7 linked regions of the Homo sapiens genome follow. The protein of the gene in region 3 interacts with the protein of the main gene of each other region in a biochemical or structural test. Each region holds a gene or a part of one and is shown on either strand. Other genes may lie near its edges.

Evidence for each region.
Region 1: the proteins of KHDRBS1 (region 3) and BTK interact in a test that uses a peptide from one of them, tested with the Homo sapiens proteins (one study listed by BioGRID).
Region 2: the proteins of KHDRBS1 (region 3) and ITSN2 interact in a test that uses a peptide from one of them, tested with the Homo sapiens proteins (one study listed by BioGRID).
Region 4: the proteins of KHDRBS1 (region 3) and SNX30 interact in a test that uses a peptide from one of them, tested with the Homo sapiens proteins (one study listed by BioGRID).
Region 5: the proteins of KHDRBS1 (region 3) and SNX9 interact in a test that uses a peptide from one of them, tested with the Homo sapiens proteins (one study listed by BioGRID).
Region 6: the proteins of KHDRBS1 (region 3) and ZDHHC6 interact in a test that uses a peptide from one of them, tested with the Homo sapiens proteins (one study listed by BioGRID).
Region 7: the proteins of KHDRBS1 (region 3) and MYO1C interact in a test that uses a peptide from one of them, tested with the Homo sapiens proteins (one study listed by BioGRID).

What each region holds. Positions count from the first base shown.
Region 1 is NC_000023.11:101,376,192-101,379,691, reverse strand, and holds part of BTK (tyrosine-protein kinase BTK), read left to right. Parts: intron 1-1,668; exon of another isoform or gene 1,669-1,833; intron 1,834-3,500. UniProt on the Homo sapiens protein: Non-receptor tyrosine kinase indispensable for B lymphocyte development, differentiation and signaling. Binding of antigen to the B-cell antigen receptor (BCR) triggers signaling that ultimately leads to B-cell activation.
Region 2 is NC_000002.12:24,312,037-24,315,536, forward strand, and holds part of ITSN2 (intersectin-2), read right to left. Parts: intron 3,189-3,500; coding exon 3,096-3,188; intron 1,488-3,095; coding exon 1,424-1,487; intron 340-1,423; coding exon 176-339; intron 1-175.
Region 3 is NC_000001.11:32,030,868-32,034,367, forward strand, and holds part of KHDRBS1 (KH domain-containing, RNA-binding, signal transduction-associated protein 1), read left to right. Parts: intron 1-656; coding exon 657-773; intron 774-2,320; coding exon 2,321-2,467; intron 2,468-3,500. UniProt on the Homo sapiens protein: Recruited and tyrosine phosphorylated by several receptor systems, for example the T-cell, leptin and insulin receptors. Once phosphorylated, functions as an adapter protein in signal transduction cascades by binding to SH2 and SH3 domain-containing proteins.
Region 4 is NC_000009.12:112,753,760-112,757,259, reverse strand, and holds part of SNX30 (sorting nexin-30), read right to left. Parts: intron 1-3,500. UniProt on the Homo sapiens protein: Involved in the regulation of endocytosis and in several stages of intracellular trafficking. Together with SNX4, involved in autophagosome assembly.
Region 5 is NC_000006.12:157,903,246-157,906,745, reverse strand, and holds part of SNX9 (sorting nexin-9), read right to left. Parts: intron 619-3,500; coding exon 534-618; intron 1-533. UniProt on the Homo sapiens protein: Involved in endocytosis and intracellular vesicle trafficking, both during interphase and at the end of mitosis. Required for efficient progress through mitosis and cytokinesis. Required for normal formation of the cleavage furrow at the end of mitosis.
Region 6 is NC_000010.11:112,440,415-112,443,914, forward strand, and holds part of ZDHHC6 (palmitoyltransferase ZDHHC6), read right to left. Parts: intron 3,193-3,500; coding exon 3,101-3,192; intron 1,938-3,100; coding exon 1,778-1,937; intron 282-1,777; coding exon 120-281; intron 1-119. UniProt on the Homo sapiens protein: Endoplasmic reticulum palmitoyl acyltransferase that mediates palmitoylation of proteins such as AMFR, CALX, ITPR1 and TFRC.
Region 7 is NC_000017.11:1,466,187-1,468,686, reverse strand, and holds part of MYO1C (unconventional myosin-Ic), read left to right. Parts: intron 1-190; coding exon 191-284; intron 285-378; coding exon 379-434; intron 435-563; coding exon 564-699; intron 700-776; coding exon 777-847; intron 848-1,109; coding exon 1,110-1,207; intron 1,208-1,345; coding exon 1,346-1,445; intron 1,446-2,500.

The sequences.
Region 1 (3,500 bases), on a different chromosome or scaffold from region 3:
TGGAGAATGACAGGGGCCCCAAGGCAGATGGCATCAACCTCATCAAAGACCAAAAAACAAATAAACGAACAAAAATCCCTCCGGTAGGCAGTGAAACACCACAAAAAAAGCAAGGGCTATAGATGATATACCAAGAGCTACAGATGGATGAGGTTGGACAAGTCACATAACCTCTGTGTCAGTTTCCTCATCTGTTTGTTGTGAGGAATAAATGAAATAATGCCTGTAAAATGCCTGTCAGGTAGAAGTCACTGAAAGGAACAGAAGTTCCATTCCATCCCCCTAAGGAAAGACAGGGAATGGCCAGAATCTTCCTAGCCAATTGAGTAGTGCTTTCAAGGAGAAATCAAGAGAAAACACTACTTCTTGGATATTTTGGCTAAGTAGTCATTTGAAGTACAGTTGACTGGTTATTTTATTTTAAATCATATCTCATAGACTCTTCCCAATCATAGGCTGGCTGTGTAGTTTTCTGAATTTTGCTCTGGTATTCTTCTTCTTTTTTTTTTTTATTTTTATTTTTTATTTTTTTTTTGAGACTCCAGGCTGGAGTGCAGTGTCACGATCTTGGCTCACTGCAACCTCCGCCTCCCGAGTTCAAGCGATTCTCCTGCCTCAGCCTCCTGAGTTGCTGGGACTACAGGCGCCTGTCACCACGCCCGGCTAATTTTTTGTATTTTAATAGAGACGGGATTTCACCATGTTGGCCAGGCTGGTCTCTAACTCCTGACCTCAAGTGATCCGCCAGCCTCAGCCTCCCAAAGTGCTGGGATTACGGGCATGAGCCACTGCGCCTGGACTTATTATTCTTAATAGTATTTTATCTTATGAGCGAAGATAAGAGCCCAAGATGGTTTAGTTTACTGATTCTGCAAGTGCTATTTCTATTAATTCCTTGGCATACTGCAGTTTGTATGATGGCTGCACTCTTGTTAATAAGCTTCGTCTTTCTGAATTCTGTTGCTCCATAGGGAGCTGGGAGGCTGCAAAAGGTGGCCCTGTAAAAATCTTTGCATTTATAATTTAATAAAGGGGACATTGTAACACTGGAACTCCATATTTTAAATGAAGAGCTCTGTGTCTATTTTTTCTCCTCCCCCATTTCTTTCTTTCTATAAACAACAGTGGTGTGTGTGTGTGTGTGTGTGTGTGTGTGTGTGTGTCTGTATGTTTGAGACATTCAAGTCACTTCCATTTCCACCCTTCACCCTGAGTGGAGCTCAGGGTTAGCCATCATTGTGCATATTTTGTGGTCAAACCGACTCTGTAGGCTACTGAAATTGTTTTAAAAAAATTGGGGCCTTTACTGGCCAGGCACGGTGGCTCATACCTGTAATTCCAGCACTTTGGGAGGCCAAGGTAGGCAGGTCACCTGAGGTCAGGAGTTCAAGACCAGCCTGGCCAACATGGGGAAACCCCACCTCTACTAAAAATACAAAAATTAGCCAGGTGTGGTGGCACACGCCTGTAATCCCGGCTACTTGGGAGGCCGAGGCAGGAGAATTGCTTGAACCCAGGAGATGGAGGTTGCAGTGAGCCAAGATCGTGCCACTGCACTCCAGCCTGGGCAACAAAGCAAGATTCCGTCTCAAAAAAAAAAAAAAAAAATGGGGCCTTTCACAATAAGTACCCACAGAAGCTTTACCCTCTAACTACTTTTTAACTCAGAGCTGTGTGTTACACACCAACCTTCTGGAGGACTCAAAAATGGATCCCTTTCCTTTCACATTATTGAGTGATGGACCAGTGGCACCTAAGGAAGAGCTACCACATTTTCAGGCTGTGTGAGTCTGGACTGGATCATAAGAAACAGGAGAAAAGCAGTCAAAGAAGGTGGTACCAAATCATGGCAATTCTGGTAGACCTCTAGCTCAATGATCTAGAGGTGGAGGCCATTTCACCTTTTGCTCAGAGGGGCGATGGCTAGTGAGAGACTTGCTTACTTCCTCATAGTCAGAGCAGCACTAAACCCTGCCCAAACACAGATACTTGAGAGAGAGGAAGACTTCCTCTTGTACAAACTGGATTTGTTCTAAAACAGAGAAAGAGTAGAGGCAGCTTCCAGAAGGACCTGTCTTATAGGAAGTAAGAGCAGGGGACAAGAATGAAACAGATGGTGGGTCTAAGCAGGGAATGTATCCACCAAGAGCCTGCAACAAAACTAAAGATAAAATGTTGCCTGCGATTTATTCGGCTAAGAGAAGTACACCAGACATGGTTTGTTGGGATGCTTCTGACCCCATTTACTGGTCACAGTACTCAATTTATTTAGGGTTTTATTTTTTATCCTGTAATTTGAGTCTTTGATTGTGAAGAGGTACTTAATTATAATTTGCCACAAGAATAATTGTGGTATGATTACAGGGCTCTCAATGAGTTGGTAGTTCCTGAGAATAGAGTAGTATTATTTGGTTACCACTACTCCTGAGTAAATGCATAATTGTAATGTTAAAATGAACCTCTTTGAGTTTAGAGCTAAAACTGAGTGTTGGGAAGGGCTGATTGTAAACTCATCAATTTGTCACTCCAGTGAGAGACCATTTAAACCAGGGAGTCAGGGTGTGTGGCAGGGTGGAGGGAAAGGTTTGCACTCTTGCCCAATTTTTCTCAAAATCTAATTTACAAAATATTGAATTAATCCACCTCCAGAAGATAGTGGCATACACATGGTAGATAAGTGGCAAAGCGATCTTCCAGAACACCCCTGGTGTTCCTTTGACGTATTTTCGTCTCCCCAGCATGAGAATAGAACCTCCTACACCACAGGAAAGAGCAAAATAACAGTGTGGATAGCCCCCAGGCTTTGATAAAATTCACTCCCTTGCTTTCCTAGTGTGAGCAATAATCTGCTTAAAAAGTAGAAAAAAACTGCTGGCTTTATTCATTCTGCTTCCACGGTGCCACCAAAAGCATAAGGAGTTTACTTAAAAAATAGACACATTCCCACCCCCACCCCCCCACCAGAGGAAAAATCCCTACCACTAATTAAACTTGAATGGAGGGCTGGTGGTTTTTTCGTTACTTACTTAGTGTTTTTTTGTTGTTGTTTTTGATTTTGTTTTTTGAGACGGAGTTTCGCTCTTGTTGCCCCGACTGGAGTATAATGGCACAATCTCGGCTCACTGCAACCTCCGCCTCCTGGGTTCAAGCGATTCTCCTGCCTCAGCCTCCCGAGTAGCTGGGATTACAGGCATCCACCACTACGCCCGGCTATTTTTGTATTTTTAGTAGAGACGGGGTTTTGCCATGTTGGCCAGGTTGGTCTTGAACTGTTGACCTCAGGTGATCCGCCAGCCTCGGCCTCCCAAAGTGCTGGGATTACAGATGTGAGCCACCGCGCCGGCCTAGTGTTCTATTTTTATGACAGCATTTGTTTTCACTTTATCTTTCCAATGAAAGTTCGGAATTAGTAATAATATTACACTGTGCATAAACTGTAAGTGAATAACTGATATGAAGTGTTGCTTGGTGTGAATAAAAAAGCCAGTGGTGACTTTGGG
Region 2 (3,500 bases), on a different chromosome or scaffold from region 3:
ACATGGATCCCCTACCTGTGACAGTGAATTTAATATTTATTATCTCTAACATGAAAATTAACTTGGAATCTGGGGACTGTCATTTTGTGCTAACAAATCCTTTTCTAATACTCAAATATGCCTAGGGATAAAGTTTAAGTAGCAAATACAGGTATTTAAATTAATACATACTTACCAAAACGAGCAGAAATTAATGGAGAAAACATAGGGGGTTGCTTCATAATAGGAGGGAGAACCACAGGCAACTGTTGGCCTTGAAGCTTCAGTTTGATGAGTTTCATAGCTATGGAGAACTCTTGCTGATCCATCTTCCCATCCTTGTTTAGGTCTGATAAAGCCCTAAAAGGAGCATGAGGTAGGTAGATTGCTATGTGGTGTGGTGGTGGGAAAACTAACGTTATTTTGGGGATTGACAAAGTAAAAATGATGATATGGCATTCACGTGTACATCATCACTAAATTTAAAATATCTAACATGTAAAATATATAATAACAAAAAGATAAAACCTACACTTTAAGAAATACTGACCAGAGATAATAACTAATAAAACACTGCCTGTCAAAACAGAATCTAGAGACCTTTGGGCTGAATTCCACCAGTTTAGGTAGAAAAAAATTCAAGATTATAATACTTCTAAATTTAATTTATTCATCTGTCCAAATATTTACTGAATACTTGCTATGTGCCTCGTACTCTACCAGGCATGAGAATATTCCAAGTGGAAAGATGGGACAGGGGTTGTTACTTATTGTAAACGTTTTTAAAAAAACAGATATTATAGAGAATAGTTTCTTTAAAGAAGGAGCAGGGGAAGCGAGGACTAATTTGGGGTTTATAGATTATGAAATAAATGAAACTACAAAATAACAGAAAGAGGATTTTGAGATTCTGCCAAATTATAAGGAAATTTTTCTCAATGATAATGTATATATCTTTCCTTAGAAAATTCTAATGAAATTAGAAATTTGTCCTAGAGAACTAAACCTGAATTATTTTCAATAATTTGCTCAATAAAATTTATTTTCCAAAAAACTGAAGAAATACCTTTTTTTTTTTTTTTTTTCTAAAGAGAGTCTCATTCTGTCATCCAGGCTAGGGTGCAGTGACACAATCATAGTTCACTGCAGCACTGAATTCCTGGGCTCAAGCAATCCTTCCATCTTGGCCTCCCTGAGTAGCTGGGACTAGAGGTGTGGCCACCACACCCAGCTAATTTTTTTTTTAATTTTCTGTAGAGACAGGGTTCTCACTATGTTGCCCAGCCTGGCCTCAAGCAATCCTCCTACCTCAGACTCCCAAAGTGCTGGCAGAAATATTCTTAATAACCAATAGAATGCAACTAAAAACAATTTTATGTTAACACTATATTACAAAAAAACAAAATACTATCAGAAAATTAGGTTCATCTACAAAACACTTTACCATATTTCAGCTAAAACAGGGGCCGGCAGACCTGATTGTAGGAAAAAATTACGTGCTTGATCACCTGGAGGTAATAAAAACAAAACCCAAGCAGCACATTAGTAAATGAAATTATTCCAATGCTTCTGAATAATAATGGGTATATGTTAATGATTTATTATAATTTTAATACCAATCATTAAAGAATAAGTGAAATAGAAACACATAAAAATTATTTACATAACTTTAATAAGACAGATATTTTAAAACAAAAGTCACATCTGCACTTCTATTGTATATTAATCAGTGATGAAAGATGATTCATCTCAGTTTTTCCACAATTGGGGTCTTCCTTAAAAATACTTCCACTTAGTAAAATTTATATTTAAAAACACTATTCCCTAAAAGAGTTTCAATATAAAAAGTACCAGGTGTTAGGAGAGAGAGTCCTCCATGAGTTTCTTCACACTCCTATGTGTCTTGCTCTGTATACCAATAATGTAAGACCCTAATTGCTCTCTGCCTGGGTCACTTCTCAGAATTGGGTTTGTAATGAGCAATCTTAACGAATCCGGTAACGTTTCCCACTGAGACAAGGGACAAACTTGCTTTACTGCTTGCTACAAAAGGGTGGGTTCCCCAAATTCAGTGTTCCTCTCCTGTAACACAATCATAGCATGTGTACTATTCTCCTGGGCTCTCTGCATTGTCTCTGTGGGACTTAGGGAACACTAAAGGAAACAGAAAGATAGATGCCAATGCTCATTTTGCTAGTTATGCTGTTAGTCATAAGGTTCTTTGTCTCTGACTCAGGAATCTTGGGTCTTCCACCCGTAATGGACAAAGTTATTAACCTGTAAGCAGGGTAATCAAATCCTGATACCAGGTAAGGTAATTACTATCATAGCAGTACAAATAACATGGTTAAGTAGATGGATTCCAAAATCAGCCCAAATGGTTTCAAAGCCCAGATTAACACTAACCATCTTTGTAACCTTAGGCAGTTACATAACGTCTCTTAGTCTCAGTTTCACTATTTGTAAATATAGACAACAACAGTGCCTACTTTACAGGGTTGTTGTAAAGGTTAAATAAAATAATGCACTTAGCATAGCATCTGGTATATAGTAAAAATTCAATAAATATCATTGTTCTCATAGTTACTATTATTGTATGTAAAGCACTAAGCTACTTTGGCACAGAAAAAAGTTTAATTAATAGAAAAAAATTTCAAAGGCACACCTAAATTAATCCCATTTTGGCTCTGGTGGTCTTTCTGCAAAACAAGGGCTAGCATCAACAATCAGTGCTTGGTGTAGCCTCAAAGACAGAGGGCTAGCATTAGGAAAACAGATTCCAGAAAAAAAAAGTCTAGATTTTCCATGAAATGAATCTAAGAAATAAACTGAAAACTTTCTAGATATAATGTTAAAATGTGAAACCAGACAATTACACAGAAATTCTTGACTATCATTTAGGATTCAGGAAAAATCTTCCATATCCCAAATTTAAAACAACAAATTAAGACAGTTCCAGGAAAAATAAAGTTAGCATTTCTTTAATTTCTAGAATTCTGATTGATATGAATTTTATCGTTTATTAACACAAATTTGATGGCAGTCAAATTAAAACTAATTCTTAGATATCACATAAGGACCATAATTCACTAATAAAACTAATTATAAATACAAACCTGTTATGTAACCTCCTGAAGGTTTGAGGTTATCAAACTGCCTGTCATGCTTAGTACGTTCTTCAGAGGTAATAGCCCACATGTTTGGCCCTCCTGAAACATAAGTGGAAGAAACTATAGTGTATACATGAGAATGCTTAAAATACAATTCTAAAATGTAAATAGAAATCACAAGTGTTCATTGTATGACAGTATTTAATATTTGAGTGACACAAAGAGTAGAGCTCTATCATAACCATACATAGCACAGCCCTAAGGCTTTTCACTCATTGGCTCAATTAACGTCTATTGAACAAGTGCTATATCACACTCACTGGAAATGGGCATCAAGCTAAATACTGGCAATAAAAAGATGAAGAAAATATTCCCACCCTCAAGGAATTCATGCTCTAGAAAACAACAGTA
Region 3 (3,500 bases):
GTTACATTTAGTTTATCCAGCGTGTTATCAAAGGGTGCTATATAGTCTCTTCTGTTCTGAGGTCACTGCCTTAAAAATGTTGATGTATGTTAAGTGCTGGGCCAGGCACAGTGGCTCATGCCTGTAATGCCAGCACTTTGGGAGGCCGATGCAGGCAGATTGCTTGAGCCCAGGAGTTCAAGACCAGCCTGAGCAACATAGCGAAACCCCATCTCTACAAAAAATACAAAAATTAGCCTGGTGTTGTGGTGTGCACCTGTACCCAGCTACTCTGGAGGCTGGGGCAGGAGGATCACTTGAGTCCAGAAAGTTGAGGCTGTGATGAGCCATGATTGTGTCACTACACTTTGGCCTGGGCAACAGAGTGAGAGCCTGTCTCAAAATAAAGTAAAAAATAAAATAGTAAAGGTCTTAATGTATTATGGAAGAGCACCAGAATACATCAGAAAAGCCAAATTCAGGTCTAGGAACTGCCACTTTCTAGTTTCATAACCTTAAGCTAATCACTTTATTAATATGGCTTCAGTGTCCTTCAGTAAAATGGGAATGGTAATACTCTACCTTTGCAGGGTTGTTTAAAATCAAGTGAGGTAATTTATGTGGAAATGTTTTTATATAGTAGCATGTATATTTAGAAATCCTCTATTTTCTGTCAGTTCAATTTTGTGGGGAAGATTCTTGGACCACAAGGGAATACAATCAAAAGACTGCAGGAAGAGACTGGTGCAAAGATCTCTGTATTGGGAAAGGGCTCAATGAGAGACAAAGCCAAGGTAAGCTCACATTAGTGAGGCAAGAGGACATCCTAATGCCTTCTACTTGCCCAGAATGCAGTATGGATGTCTTATAGAGGCGGCAAGAATTTTGTATGTGTACAGAATGTGGCTCCTTTAAGTTTGCACTGGATGCAAGAGATTATACACCAAGTTAATTTACTTGGCTTGGCAACCCTGGAAGAGCCTAGGTGTGCCCTGGTGATAGTTTTCTTTTGGACTTTTTGACTGTGTAGTAATGGAAACAGCAGTAGCATGTTGCGCATTGGTAGGATTGTCTGTGAAAACTTGAAAGGGGAACTGAATATACTAAAATTTAGTCTAAAGCAGACAAAAGACGCTAAAATGCAAATAGCACACCCCCTTTTTTGTAACCTGGAAAAGTGAGAACAATAATGTGAGAGCAGATGAGTTTGAGGATTAGTTGGTTTGTTTTATAGCCGGTTTGGAATGTGAGGCTCACTAAAAGAATGTATTCCAAAAGGAACCATGAGTAATCCTGACTACAGAATCTAATGCGTCTTTTTTTTCCCCATGCCATAGCCGCGTACGCTGTGTACTCTGTGACAAGAAACTTCTCACCAAAACAGAATAGTCTTAGCCTTCTGGGGTCACCTTATTTGATGAGATATTCCTGCTACAGTCCAAAAACCAATTCTTTCAACCCTCCTTTTATGTAGTCTAATGGACACATGTTTGTTTTCTCAGGTCATTTCTTGCTAGATGCATATAGTTACGGCTGAAGTGTGTTCTAACTAATGAGATTTACATGAGCTTTTCTTCCCTCTGTCCTGACTTCTTTCTTCCCCTACCACTCCCTAGACCATATAAGCAGATAAGCAGAGCTCGTGGTGATTAACAGCTCTACCTGTGATTTAAAAACAAATGCTTGGCAAACAGCTATTATCTGAATAGACTAGAATTAAGTTTTTCTTCTTTATGCTTTTAGTAGGAGCTCCAATGGATATCTCAGGGATTTAAGACAACAATTAACTGTAAGCAGCAGACCATGTGCAAGTTTAGCAGGCTGTGCAAATTACTGTTCTTGAGAGTTTGTTTTACTTTTTTTTTTTTTCTTGAGAGGGAGCCTTGCTCTATTGCCCAGGCTGGAGTGCAGTGGCTCACTGCAACCTCCACCTCACGGGTTCAAGCAATTCTCCTGCCTCAGCCTCCTGAGTAGCTGGGATTACAGGCGTGCGCCACCATGCCCGGCTAATTTTTGTATTTTTAGTAGAGACGGGGCTTCATCACATTGGTCAGACTGGTCTCGAACTCCTGACCTTGTGATCCTCCCGCGTCAGTCTCCCAAAGTCCTGGGATTATAGGCGTGAGCCACCGCGCCTGGCTGCTTGTTTTACTTTCTTAAACTTTACTGTTTTTCTTTTTTCTTTTTTCTTTTTTTGTTTAATTCTTCTCAGCTCATACCAATTAACTTTACTGTTTTTCATGGACATTAGGGGTATTTCTTGCTGTTCCTTTGGCTTAGAGGTAAAGGTGGTGTTTTCTCCCTAGTCCATGGTGTGACATTTCTCTGCATTTTTCCATAGGAGGAAGAGCTGCGCAAAGGTGGAGACCCCAAATATGCCCACTTGAATATGGATCTGCATGTCTTCATTGAAGTCTTTGGACCCCCATGTGAGGCTTATGCTCTTATGGCCCATGCCATGGAGGAAGTCAAGAAATTTCTAGTACCGGTAAGGAAATCCATATCCTGTGTCTTCTGAGCAAAAGAGAACTGGGATCTTATACTGTTGTGAAGGTAGGGGTTCTTAACTAAGGTCTCTGCATAACCTGTATGTATACCAAATTCTGCACTTATGTTCATTTTCCTTAGGTAGTTCGTTACTTGCACCTAGTTCTCAAAGCATTATGCTCCAAGGCCACTCTATCCCTCCTTGTCTAATGTGGTTTTCATTGTGTACCGGTATCTTGTCAGTATCTCGGGTCCACAGTGTGCCTGCATTCTGATATTTGGTTAACTAAGGTTTAACAGGGTCTTCACCTAGCTGAGTATTTTGGTAGTAGTGTGGAACAAGGAGATTGTGTTAGGAAAGTGACTAAGGTGGGTCTCTGCACTCAAGAAGTTCATGCTGTAGAGAGTAGAGACTAGCAGCAAGAAGCTTATAGCATCTAGTGTTATTGGGTTAAATTCTGACCTGAGCACACTCAGGGATTTCTTTCCTGGAGGAGTTTGCTGAGGACGAGTTTAGTTTGGAAGAGGTTGACTATTGATGTTTAACAGATAGGTGAGCAGCTTTTTTCAGACTATTACTGAGGACTAGATAGAGATGGGACAGGCCAGTTTATCTATCTTGCTTGTTACCACCTTTGAATACTTGGTTGGAATATTACTTTGAATAAATAGGAAATGGTACTATTTTTGCCTTTTAGCAAGGCCTGGTGGTTGTCAGAGTTAACATACTACTGTTGAATATTTAATAACAAGGATGAATCTGGAGACTTATGAAGGATTTGGAATATTATTAAGTAGAATTGAGTAAGCGTCATGTGTTCATCAGAAAACTAGGAGGAGGTAAGATACAGTCCTTGGTTTTCTTGAATGTTAAATGAGGGAATTAGAACTAAATGTGGTGTCAGATGATGTGAAAATTGATAGGGCAAAAATTTATAGGCAGTGTGGGCCAGGCACGGTGGCTCACGCCTGTAATCCCAGCAATTTGGGAGGCCGAGGAGGGCAGATCACCTGAGGTCGGGAGTTCGAGACCA
Region 4 (3,500 bases), on a different chromosome or scaffold from region 3:
CACAGAAAGAAAAACACTGAGTGATCTCACTTACATATGGAATCTTTAAAAAAATTCAAATATATAGAGAAAGAACACAAAATAGTGGCTACCAAGGGCAGGTGGGAGAGGAAATGGGAAGATGTAGGTAAACGGATACAAAATAGCAGATATGGAGGAGTGTACAAGTCTGGAGATCTAATGTAGAACATGAGGACTAGAGTTATTAATAATAAAATTGTACTGTACTTGACAATCATGCTAAATGAGTCAATTTAGATGCTCTTGCCACAAAAACAAAATGAGTTAACTATGAGATGATGACTGTGTTCATTTGCTCCACTATAGTAAACTTTTACTATCTATGTGTATCCCATAACATCAAGTTGTATACCTTAAATAAACACAATAAAATGTGATAATATCCAGTGGCACTATTTCAGAGCTGGAATGCTTCTAGGTATTACAACGCAGGGTGCGGCCGTGGGAGAGAGCAGATGAACTGTTAAAAAGGTGAAGGAGCCGAGCGCAGTGGCTCACGCCTGTGATCCCAGCACTTTCAGAGGCCGAGGCAGGCGGATCACCTGAGGTCAGGAGTTCGAGACCAGCCTGGCCAATATGGTGAAACCCCGTCTCTACTAAAAATACAAAAATTAGCTGGGCGTGGTGGTGGGCACCTGTAGTCCCAGCTACTCAGGAGGCTGAGGCAGGAAAATCGCTTGAACCCTGGAGGCAGAGGTTACAGTGAGCTGAGATCGCAGTGAGCTGAGATCGTGCCATTGCACCACAGCCTGGGCAACAGGGCAAGACTCCATCCCAAAAAAAAAAAAAAAAAAAAAAAAAAAGGATGATTACAGATAAGGAGGTCAAGAAACTGGTAATTTTGGAGAGTTGGACAGATCAGCCATGTGAATGATTAAAGCCCCGTGGTGAGGACATGATTTCAGAAGACAGTAAGTTGGGGTCTAAAGATTTAATGAATGAGAGTGAGAAGGTGTGAAGTTGGAAAATGACAAAGAAAACAGTATTGGAAGGTCTGTAGTGGATATTTGTTTCCTGCTTGTCTAACATTTCTTGATTTTGCTCTGGCAACCACCTCCTCCCTTCCCAGGCACAGAGGGGGCTTCCAAAATATTTGTAATATTCTGTATCTTAATCTGGGGGTAGGAACATTTTATTAGTCTTTAAACTGTACAGATAACTTTTACTCTTTATATACACACATTGTTATAAACTTCATGTATATATTCCCCAATTTTAAAAAAATTCCTTTCCTCATTCCAAAGATAAGTACCTGATTCAAGTCTGCGCAATCAGAATCAGAGACTGGTTTAGGCGCCTGACCCAATTTAGACCAATGAGACACCAGCCCAGAGCTTTGGCCAGAACTATCAGGAAAGGAGTGCTCTCCTTCTGCTGGAGCTGGGAAGCTTGTTTATAGAACATATCCCTTCACTGGCATGAGAACAAGGCTGACACAGAAGAAAGCAGAGCCAAGAGATGGAAAGTGACAGATCCCCGACATCACTGGAATACCTTGCTCCAGCCATCCCTGAAGCCAAAATACCTGGGCCTTTTCAGCAACGTGAGCCAGTAGATTTTTATTTTCCTCTATCTAGTTTGCATTCAGCTCATGTCTTTTTAACTAATAAAGAATCCTAACTAATTCAGGGGAATGCTCAAGGTAGTCTCAATTGAACAGCCTATGTGATCCTTTTCAATATATAATCAAACTATGCCCCCCTCCTGCTCAAGACCCTGAAATGTCCCCTGCCCATGTTAACTTCCCACCCCATGGCCCTAGCAATAAAGGCCAAAGTCCTCAGGGTGACCGGCCACATTCAATATAATCTGACCCCTCCCTTCTCTGCCCCCAGCCTTTAACTCTCCAATGCTCACTCTACCTGGCCACACTGGCCTCTAGGCTGCTCCCCGACACACCAGCCCTGTGCCTTCCGGCCTCTGCTTCAGGCAGTCCCTCCCCGGACAGTCTTCTTCAGATACTCACCCACTAACTCCCTCACCTCCTTCCAGTCTGCTCAAATATCAAGTACTCAACAAGGCCTGCCAAATCCTCTTCCTCGCGGCCAGTTCTCCTTTTTCCTCCTTCCATGGCATTTATGGTGTAATACAGTACAAACTTGCTGAAATGTATCCAGTGAGGGCAGGGTTTTCAGCTAATTTATTCAAGTTCCTAGAACAGTGCCTGGCTCATAGTAGGCCCTCAAATATGTATCAAATGAACAAAAAGAATGACAGGAGCCTCAAAGGAGCAGAGCCTGGTTTGTAAAAGGTGATGGAGGAAAAGCCTTCTCTATTTTGAAGACTTCAGAGGACGTCTAAGTGACCTAAGGAGGCAGGAAGTAGATGAAGAGTTCAGAGAAGAGATTGAGGATGTGGGAGGAGGTGTTAGCCACACAATGGGGCTTAAGAATCCAGTATTAAGTTTTGGGAGGGGTACAGAAGTTAGAGGCTGAGTCAGAGGAGAAGCAGCCTGGAGCAATTTACAGATGAAAGTTAAAAAAGGAGAGTAAGGCTAAGTGATGTATTTACATTTTAGATGGAGATAGCCATATAAGGTCCAGTGAGGCTCACGCCTGTAATCCCAGAACTTTGGGAGGCAGAGGTGGGCAGATCATCTGAGGTCAGAAGTTCGAGACCAGCCAGGCTAACATGGTAAAACCCCATCACTACTAAAAATAAAAAAATTAGCCAGGTGTGGTGGCAGTCACCTGTAATCTCAGCTACTCAGGAGGCTGAGGCAGGAGAATCACATGAACCCAGGAGGGAAAGGTTGCAGTGAGACTGCACCACTGCACTCTAGCCTAGGCAACAGAGTGAGACTCCATCTCAAAAAAAAAAAAAAAAAAAAAAGGCCCAGTGAGTTTAGCAGGCATCAAAAGAATTAGTCCTGGCAACCTCTGGTAGATAGAAAGGATTCCTCCTTTGGGAGCCTATGAAGGGAGGCATCACACCATGATTTGAACAATTTGAGAAATTGGTGGAGAGTCCATCATATTCAGTCTTTCTCTTCTACCCAAGCACTACAGAGTTCATTCACAAGCGTCAGCTGGACCAAGACACCAGGCTACCCTGTTCATCGCACCATCTTGGGCCCTCAGAAAGCAATTCCCCTTTGCATAATAACCCTGTACTATGACCAGCCTGTCAAACCTTCATTCCCCTGGCCCAGAACTGACGCAGAATCCCTGTCATCCAGGATCACAACCCCAGTATCTAACAAGACAAAACTGGCTTCTTTTCAAAGACAGACCATAGCACTGAACTGTCCTAACACCCCTCTGATGACCCTCATGCTGCTGAGGTAGGAGAAAGCCAGCCACAGGGAAGGCTTCCTTCTTCTGGCTCTGACTCACCTCTGTGGCTTGCTAGCTTCTCTCTACAGAAATTTCTTCAGAGTTATGAGACCATACGTGTATGCCAAGATTCAAGGAAAATGTTACTCCTAGTCAGAGAAAGAAATTACAATGCTTAGCCTCTAAGGAAAAGTGGCTTACTAT
Region 5 (3,500 bases), on a different chromosome or scaffold from region 3:
ATGCAATAACCAAGTAATTCTAAGACAGATATTCTCAATGATGTCTTTAACTCCCAGCTTCCATTTGGTAGCTCCTTATCTCAATTTGACAGCTGGTTTACTGGAAAAAACACTATTACCAAAAACACTATTACCCATATATCTGAAAGGGTACCTTATTCTGATAACATACATGTACTTTACAAGGGAAGAAACATAAATATTTGAATTGAGTTCATCAGTTAAACATATAGGGCTGGCAGAAAAACTATGTAAAATACACTTCAAGACACTTTAGAAAAAAATGATCAAAATAGTATATTTGTTCAATACTAAAAGTCTGAAAGATAAAGAATAAACAATATAATGACAGGCATTAATTTGTGTTAATTATCTTCAGTACTCCTACAACACTAACATATATTATCAGTTATGTGGGGCATTAAATATATTTAAAAATACTTTCCAAAAGATGAATAACTCGCTTAGCTTTAAAGTACGGTATAAGAAAGAGCTTAATCAGAAAGAAAGCAAACAAAAATAAACAAACTTACAATGATGGGAATTTTCTCTTTGGGTTTTGCTAGTTGTTTGGCCAACAAATACTGTTCCGTGCCAGGTTTCGCAAATCCAGGAAATCTAATCATGAATATAAATGTTCATCAGTCTTAAGACTTTCCTTGTAAGAATTTTACAACTCTCGTCTACATTTACTTACCAGTTTTAACCTTGTCCTGTCTTTCGGGTGCACTAGAACTGGAAACTGTGGTAAATGAAACCTAATGTAATCAGATTGTTCAATGGCCAATTAGGCATTTAATTAAGCTTGATCTGGTAAACAGAACAGTTTGACTCCAGAAGGTGTGATGTTTACGGGCACTCTATTTGCTTGACTGTGTCTGAAACATTCGGTCACCCCAGAGTGAAGGGCAGACCTGAAAAAACGCCCCCCTAGTTCCCTGGGGCAGTGAGTAGTGAGCACGCCAATCTGAGTTGGCCACAGGGGGCAATAGCCACATGCTGGCATTTCTACATCCAAATTAAAGTTGCCTTTCAACAGGCTCTCTCCAGAGGCCACAACTGTCCCAAAGGGGCTGTCCTGCTCATCAGCATATGTGCTTGTTTCTTTTGGAATTGCCTTCAGAAGCAGTTCATGACAGCGGAAAACAAGTCTCTTTAGTAGAGACCCAAAGTGTAATCAATAAATTTGGCTATGGGGAGGGGGTGGGGGGGAGGTCACTTAAGACTCAAAAACTTAAATAAACTTGACTACTTCCAGAAATCACATCTATATCCAAAGGACATTTCTGAAATTAGAGGACAGCTAGAACATAGCCATCCAAAGGGCTACTGAAAAAGACAAGATTAATTTGGGTTTTAGAATTTTTCTTTTAGTAAACAGAAGAAAAGGAAGCAAAATATCTACAATGGGAAAAGGAATCTTATTTCTACGAAGTTCCAGTCGCATTGCTTCTACTTTCATTCATGTGCCAAGCCAAAGGCCAGTGTGATGCTCTCAGGGGCCCGTGTCTTCTTTTCCTGCATTCTCAGCTGACTTCCCTTGAGTCTCCTTTCTCTAGACATTCCTTTAAAACGCAGCTTACACAAGAGACCAGATGTGTCCTGCAGCTGGATGGCATGGGGTTTGAATTCTGACTCCAACACTTAGGTAGCCTTAGGGGCTGAAATCTCCTTGTGGAAGAATGAGACCAGAATGACCTACCTTCTAAGGTGATAAGGGAATTAAAGATTTATGTAAAGAACCTAGTATGTACTCAGTACATTTCAGTCATTGGCAACTAAGTCATCCTCTCTTTGGAAGTACTCCCTGCAGCCGCAGGTAGAGTCTTCCTAGGCATTTTGAGCATATTTTGTGATTCTATTCATCACACCTGACTGCCGCTATCCATTTACCTATTACAGCAGCCAGAGGGACTTAGAGGAAGCATTTGTGTTTTCAGGACCTGGAGGAGTTTTGGGAGCATACTGAATGCTTAATGAATTAGGCTAACCTGCAACACTTTTATTTATTAATTACTCTATTTTATTTATTTTTTTGAGACAGAGTCTCACTCTGTCGCCAGGCTGGAGTACAGTGGCGCGATCTCGGCTCACTGTAACCTCCACCTCCTGGTTCAAGCGATTATCCTGCCTCAGTCTCCCAAGTAGCTGGGACTACAGGTGCGCTTCTGTGGGGATTATATATCATGACAACTCCTTGACCAGCTTGTAAGCATTTCAATTTTTGGGCACTGTTATGGACCACAGAAAAATTTGAGGACAGCAATGTATTAATTATTTCAGCATCATCAAGATGCCTTTTATTTTTTTTTTGGAGACAGAGTCTCTGTGTCGCCCAAGCTGGAGTGCAGTGGTGCCATCTCGGCTCACTGCAACCTCCGTCTCCCGGGTTCAAGCGATTCTCCTGCCTGAGCCTTCCAAGTAGCTAGGATTACAGGCGTGCCACCACGCCCAGCTACTTTTTTATATTTTTGGTACAGATTGAGGTTTCACCATGTTGGCCAGGCTGGTCTCGAATTCCTGACCTCGTGATCTGCCTGCCTCGGCCTCCCAAAGTGCTAGGATTACAGACATGAGGCACTGCACCTGGCCCAAGGTGAATTCTTATAGTGCTCAAGTATATTTAATTTCAGATCTCTTTTTCTAGTATAAGATTTATGTTCCATGACTAGAATACAGCTGTCATATAAAATGGATTAATTGCTGAAAAAGTGTTAATACTTAAAAACATTTTTTATAATTGTTTTAAGTTTAAGTGACTCATTTATACAGTTTAGTTAAATACAAATACACAGGGTGTTAAATCGTTCACAGCACTACAGAGAGACAGAGATGCCTCAGAGGCACAGGTTCAAGTTAGGACTGCTTTAATGTGGTTTCAGCCTGGAATGATATTTTAGAGCAGAAAGAATTCTTAAAGCCAACCTCCTTGCTTTCGAGATGAAGAAACTGAGGTTCCAACAGGTCACGAAACTTGCCTTAAGGTTATAAGCAAATCAGAGAGCAAGTGTGGAGCAGAGGAGAGCACCAAAAACCAGAGTCAGAGACCCCCAGGCATGAGCTGGAACCTCACTCATCAGCCATGAAAACGTGGCCACTCATTTTTCTCAGTCTCTGCTTCCTTCGTTTTCAAAATGGGGCTAATTTATATGAATTTTCAATATACTTTATATTCACATTTAAAGAACAGCTGACAATGATGCACATCACTACTGACCATGACTGAAAACTTCAAATTTGACTCTGAAACAAGACACAGTTGACTAACAAGACAGAGAATTATTCACTTTATTATGCATGCAATTGAGCAGGAAAATATATAATGGAAGAAACTGGGTAAGAGGCAGCAAAAGTGTGCAGTCAAAAGAGAACTCATTTAATCACTGAAGCTATTTAAATATACTTTGGAGAACTTGTAGGACTTATTAAACTAGATCTAGACCTAGATCTTGATGTCTAAATATATGTCAAATGTTATGTTTTTAATTTTTCCAGACACA
Region 6 (3,500 bases), on a different chromosome or scaffold from region 3:
AAATAAGCAAAAATAATTTCCATTTCATACTGGACACTTAAATACAGGCTTTGTCTCTTTCTTGTGCAATCAGTCCCAACAACTTGACACTTTTGACTTGAGGTAATTGAGATGCTTACCTGGATAAAAAACAACATCCCAACAGCTATGGTTGTTCCTAAAGCTAATCCCAAGGCAAACAAGGTGGTAGCAAATGCAGCTAATCCAAATGGAACAATTGGAAGAGGATCTCTCCGGGCTGCACTCATGTCGATCTTCACTGTGTTCCACCCAAAGGAGAGCTATCGCAGCAACAATAGCACACGCACAAAATGTTTGGTTATGGTAACTGGTCAGACTCTACTGTGACACGTAAAACAACTTGATCAAAGAGATAACAACGTGGCCCTGTGGCCAACGCAAACACAGCTATTTTTATTTTATTTTATTTATTTATTATTTATTTATTTGAGACGGAGTCTCACTCTGTCGCCCAGGCTGGAGTGCAGTGGCACGATCTCGACTCACTGCAACCTCCACCTCCCAGGTTCAAGCAATTCTCCTGCCTCAGCCTCCCGAGTAGCTGGGACTACAGGCATGTGCCATCACACCCGGCTTATTTTTTATATTTTTAGTAGAGACAGGTGTCACCAGATTGGCCAGGCTGGTCTTGAACTCCTGACCTTGTGACCCACACCGCCTCAGCCTCCCAAAGTGCTAGGATTACAGGCGTGAGCCACTGAGCTGGGCCAGCTATTTTTAATTAATATAGTAATGAGCTCGGACCGATGTGCAGGATATCATTCTTAGTTTTCTCAAATGTTACTTTTTGTTGTTGTTGTTTCCTCAGAAAGTGTCAAGGAGACCTTACCAACATTAACATACATAAACAACACTAGACACTAATCTAAACCAGAACTATGTCTTTTCTCTTCTCTTGCTATTCTACATCGCAGTATTCTTCCACAGTGACAAGTGCTGCCTAGGATTCAGTTGTTTCTTCCCTCATGTTTTACAAATGGTGATGAAGAACTGATAAAATGCAGGCCAAATATGGCCACAGATGTGTGCTGCCTGGCCTGCATAATGTTTCAACATTCAGAATTAGGTGCCAACATTTAAAAATCAAGAGATTTCACATAAAAATCCAGATTTTCAGATTTTTCTGGGCTAGAATTTCCAAACACCACAAGCTAGCAGATCAAATATGGGCTGTCCCCTCCCCAAAGGACAGACTCTCCAGTTTGGCAGTCCCATCAGGTGTGTCTCTCGTTTACTTTCAAGGCCTGTTTAGGGAGGTTTGTGTCCCTTGAACTTTATCTCATGACTACTTGCCCATAAATCAACTTGATCTCTTGCTGGTTTAATCTGTTTATATTTTATGGTATGCATCTGCTCCATGAGCCACCTTCCAGGGCACTAGAATCAGAAATGAACAAAGAACTACAACTTGCCACATGAATGGGATGAAAGTAGGAAGCACTAGTGTTGTCTTTTTTTCTTCTATTCTTTCCATAACTATTAAGTTTGAAGTCTAACAAATTACATATACAGTACTAAAATATTTATCACCTTCAACTACAGCATGTAAGTTTTCAGAACAAATACTCTTTCCTCATCTTAAAATTTAAGTTTTAATGCTTTCTAAAAAGGAACCCATATACCAGTAAAACAAAGTTCTATTTCCCCAACTAAATCACAGAAAGCATATTTCCAAAAGGAACCTCTTAAATGTTGATAACTACCATTTAATCTTGCATGGATGATTTTATAACAAAACATTTTCATTTTCACTTACCCGATGATAAAGCTGTGTGTACATAGTCATCACAAAAATGAAAGCAGCATGGATACAACCCAGTGGTGCTAAAAGGAGAAACAGTGTGAACGAAGCATGATTTTGGTAACCACAACAGTTGTTGATCCAAGGACAGTGATGGTCCATCTTCATCACACATCTAACAAGAAAAATTTACATAAAACATGAGGCAGAAAATCCTGTCTACTTTAAATAACTTTGGTCTTCAAAAGATCAAGCAAATAGGAATCCAGCATGTCCATGAGCTACGAGAGAATTATACTTCATGGAACAGAAAGAAAAATCTTTATGAGCTTTTAAACAATTAAGTGACTCCTTTTAAATTCTAAACAGCACAGGAAAGGGCAGGCTTTCTAACAGCTTCTGAGGAAAAGATGTCAGCTACAAGTATTTGTTTAAAGAAGTCAGGAGACCCACTGAAAGAGGGTCTCTTTATAATGCTCATTATAAAGAAATGAGCATGGTTCCTGGTTTTCTTCTAGTTTGTAAGTGCAGTGACCCAAGTGACCTACAATAGAGACTCAACAAATCCCTTATAGACCTCCAGTGGGGTTAATGGGCTCAAATAGACACATGTAACTTCCTTCCTGTTCTCATAGTATCCTTTAGTTAATGGATCTCTGAGCTAAGCAAGCTAACTCCAGAATATAAGATATGGTATAATAAACAAAGTCTTGCCGTGTACTGTTGATAGAAGACAATGTTTTGGCCTGAAACAAAACTTTATTTGCTTTCAACGGTTCTCTAAATTTCTTACTAATCAGTGATTATAGCTGTTCATTAAAAAAGGTCACAGGTTATTTCATATTTTTAATAGTCAGTTTTCTTCTAAGTTTTTGATATTAAAACATTTGTGATAATAGGCACCTGGATTATTAGATGTGTATAAAGTGTAAATGTTTGTCAATAAGTAATGGGAAAAGCAGATCTCCCTTATAATTTAGACTCAGAACAATTCTAAAGTTAGTCCAGATGGCAGCTGACTAACACAATTAATCTTGATATATGGAAACAAACTTAAGGTTTATACCTTTTTCCCTTGTTCTTGTAGGACAAGAGGCAAAGTAAATCTGTATTTTTCTGGAAAATCTTTTCACTTGTAACAAGGAAGAATTAAATCTATTTATTATCTAGATAATTTAAGTATAAAATGGCGATTATGGACACAAGTATTCTGACAATATTGTTTATAATATGGTAACCTTGCAGTGAATAGAAGTAGCACTAATGTAGTATAAGCAACAATGAAAACATCAGTAATTAGTTGATCAGTCCTCGCTGAACAGCAAGAAAGACAGGTACCTGTTACACTTTCTGCAGTGATGTGAACGTGGTGCCTTGTATGCTTGGCAGACTTTACAATACTGGAGATACATGGTATCCTGAGAAATTTCCTTGGCAGCAAAACAGAAACAAAAATGCATCATCGGATACTTGAATATAAGTATGATTCCTACGGTATGATTTTCTTTTATGGGCGATAGGGGAAGGAGAGAATCTTAACTTGCATTTCCAGTCCTCTTATTTGAGCTAAAATATTTTTAAATAAGTTTTCTGGTAAGAGCAGCATCACTTTCCCAATTACCCAGAAGTCCTTTTAAATTTTTCTTCCTTGTGCTCCACCTAAATTCAGTGTCACTAGTTGGTTCTACTTACCCCAAATCTTAGTGGATTCAGGAGTTCAGAAAAAGGTAGCTGACAA
Region 7 (2,500 bases), on a different chromosome or scaffold from region 3:
GTGGCGGCAGAGGGTCAGGAAGTGGAGGGTTGATGGGCGTGTGGGGGGCAGGGCTCAGCCTCCTGGTGCTGAGCCAGAGAGGGACCAGCAAGCGGGTGAGGGAGGCTGTCTCAGGTCCTAAGGCTGGCTCTGCCCCCCCAAGATGGTGCTCCCCACCATGACACTCTCCTCACCCCCCTTGTCTCCTCAGCTGCAGCAGAAGGCCGTGGCTAGTGAGATCTTCAAGGGCAAGAAGGATAATTACCCTCAGAGTGTACCCAGGCTCTTCATCAGCACTCGGCTTGGTGAGCCCCTGACTTTCCAGCACTCAGACCTTTCGTCACCATCCTGGTCCCCCATTGCCTCCACTGACTTCCCTCCCCGCCATCTGAGTTGCAGGTACAGATGAGATCAGCCCCCGAGTGCTGCAGGCCTTGGGCTCTGAGCCCATTCAGGTAAGAGCCTGCCTGCAGCCCTGAGTCCAGCAGCACGGTGCTACTGCCTGAGAGCTGAAGGCAGGTCAGGGCAGGGGCGGAGCCTTGGGAGCCTCTCCCCAGCCCCTTCAGCCTGGCCTCTGTCCCCAGTATGCGGTGCCTGTTGTGAAATACGACCGCAAGGGCTACAAGCCTCGCTCCCGGCAGCTGCTGCTCACGCCCAACGCCGTCGTCATCGTGGAGGACGCCAAAGTCAAGCAGAGGATTGATTACGCCAACCTGACCGGTCAGCCAGGGTCCAGGGCTGCAGGGGGAGGGCCCTGCTCTGACCCTCGACCTCTGACCTTTGCCCTCTCCCCTCAGGAATCTCTGTCAGCAGCCTGAGCGACAGTCTTTTTGTGCTTCATGTACAGCGTGCGGACAATAAGCAAAAGGTGCCTTTTCATGGATGGGGAGGAGTGGTGGGGGATGGGGGAGGTAGATGGGGAGGTGGGGTGGATGGGGGAATAGGGGGTGTGGGGGTGGATGGGGAGGTGGGAGGGTGGATGGGGGTAGATTGGGGGGTCAGGAGGTGGATGGGGAGGTGGGAGGGTGGATGGGGGTGGATTTGGGGGTCAGGAGGTGGATGGGGAGGTGGGGCGGGGGTTCCTCAAGTTCTGGGCAGGGCCTGACCCCTCCTCCTGCCTGGCCCCCCAGGGAGATGTGGTGCTGCAGAGTGACCACGTGATTGAGACGCTGACCAAGACAGCCCTCAGTGCCAACCGCGTGAACAGCATCAACATCAACCAGGGCAGGTGAGGCGCGGGCGGCCCCCGGGGACAGGGCGGGGGTGGCGAGGGGGCTGTGTGGGCACCCAGGGACAGGGTGGGGGTCCACCTTAGGGTTGGGGGTCTGCCTCCATGGAAAAACCCTCACCCACCCCGTTCCCCCAGCATCACGTTTGCAGGGGGCCCCGGCAGGGATGGCACCATTGACTTCACACCCGGCTCGGAGCTGCTCATCACCAAGGCCAAGAACGGGCACCTGGCTGTGGTGAGTGGGGCCTGCTTTCCCGCTTATGGCCTGGCTGTGATAGCCAAGCCTTCCTTGGCTGTGCTTGGCAGAGCCCAGGCACCTCACCATGGGCCTTCATCCAGAGGCCATCATACCACCTCTTCCATCCCTTGGCCCACCCATGAGGGCCAGAGAGAGCCCCTCAGTGCAGAAAGTTGTAAAGGTGGCAGCACGGTGGCTCATGCCTATAATCCCAGCACTTTGGGAGGCTGAGGCGGGTGGATCACCAGAGGCCAGGAGTTTGAAACCAGCCTGGCCAACATGGCAAAACCCATCTACTAAAAAAATGCAAAAGGCTGGGTGCAGTGGCTCACACCTTTAATCCCAGCACTTTGGGAGGCCGAGGTGTGTGGATCACCCGAGATCAGGAGTTCGAGACCAGCCTGGCCAACATCGTGAAACCCCATCTCTACTAATAACACAAAAATTAGCCGGGCGTGGTGGTGCACGCCTGTAATACCAGCTACTAGTGGGGGCTGAGGCGGGAGAATTGCTTGAACCCAGGAGGTGGAGATTGCAGTGAGCTGATATCATGCCACTGCACTCCAGGCCTGGGGAACAGAGTGAGATGTCATCTCAAAAAAAAAAAAAAAGGCCAGGCACAGTGGCTCACGCCTGTAATCCCAGCACTTTGGGAGGCGAAGGCAAGTGGATCACCTGAGGTTGGGAGTTCGAAACCAGCCTGACCAACTGGAGAAACCCCATCTCTACTAAAATACAAAATTAGCCGAGTGTGGTGGCGCATGCCTGTAATCCCAGCTACTTGGGAGGCTGAGGCAGGAGAATCGCTTAAACCCGGGAGGTGGAGGTTGCGGTGAGCCGAGATTGCGCCATTACACTCTACCCTGGGCAACAAGAGCAAAATTCCATCTCAGAATTTGTATACAAAAAAGTTAGCCTGGTGTGGTGGCGTATGCCTGTAGTCCCAGTTGCTCAGAAGCCTGAGATGAGAGGATTGCTTGAGCCCAGGAGGTTGAGGCTGCAATGAGACCCAAGATCTCACCACTGCACTCCAGCCTGGGTGACAAAATGAG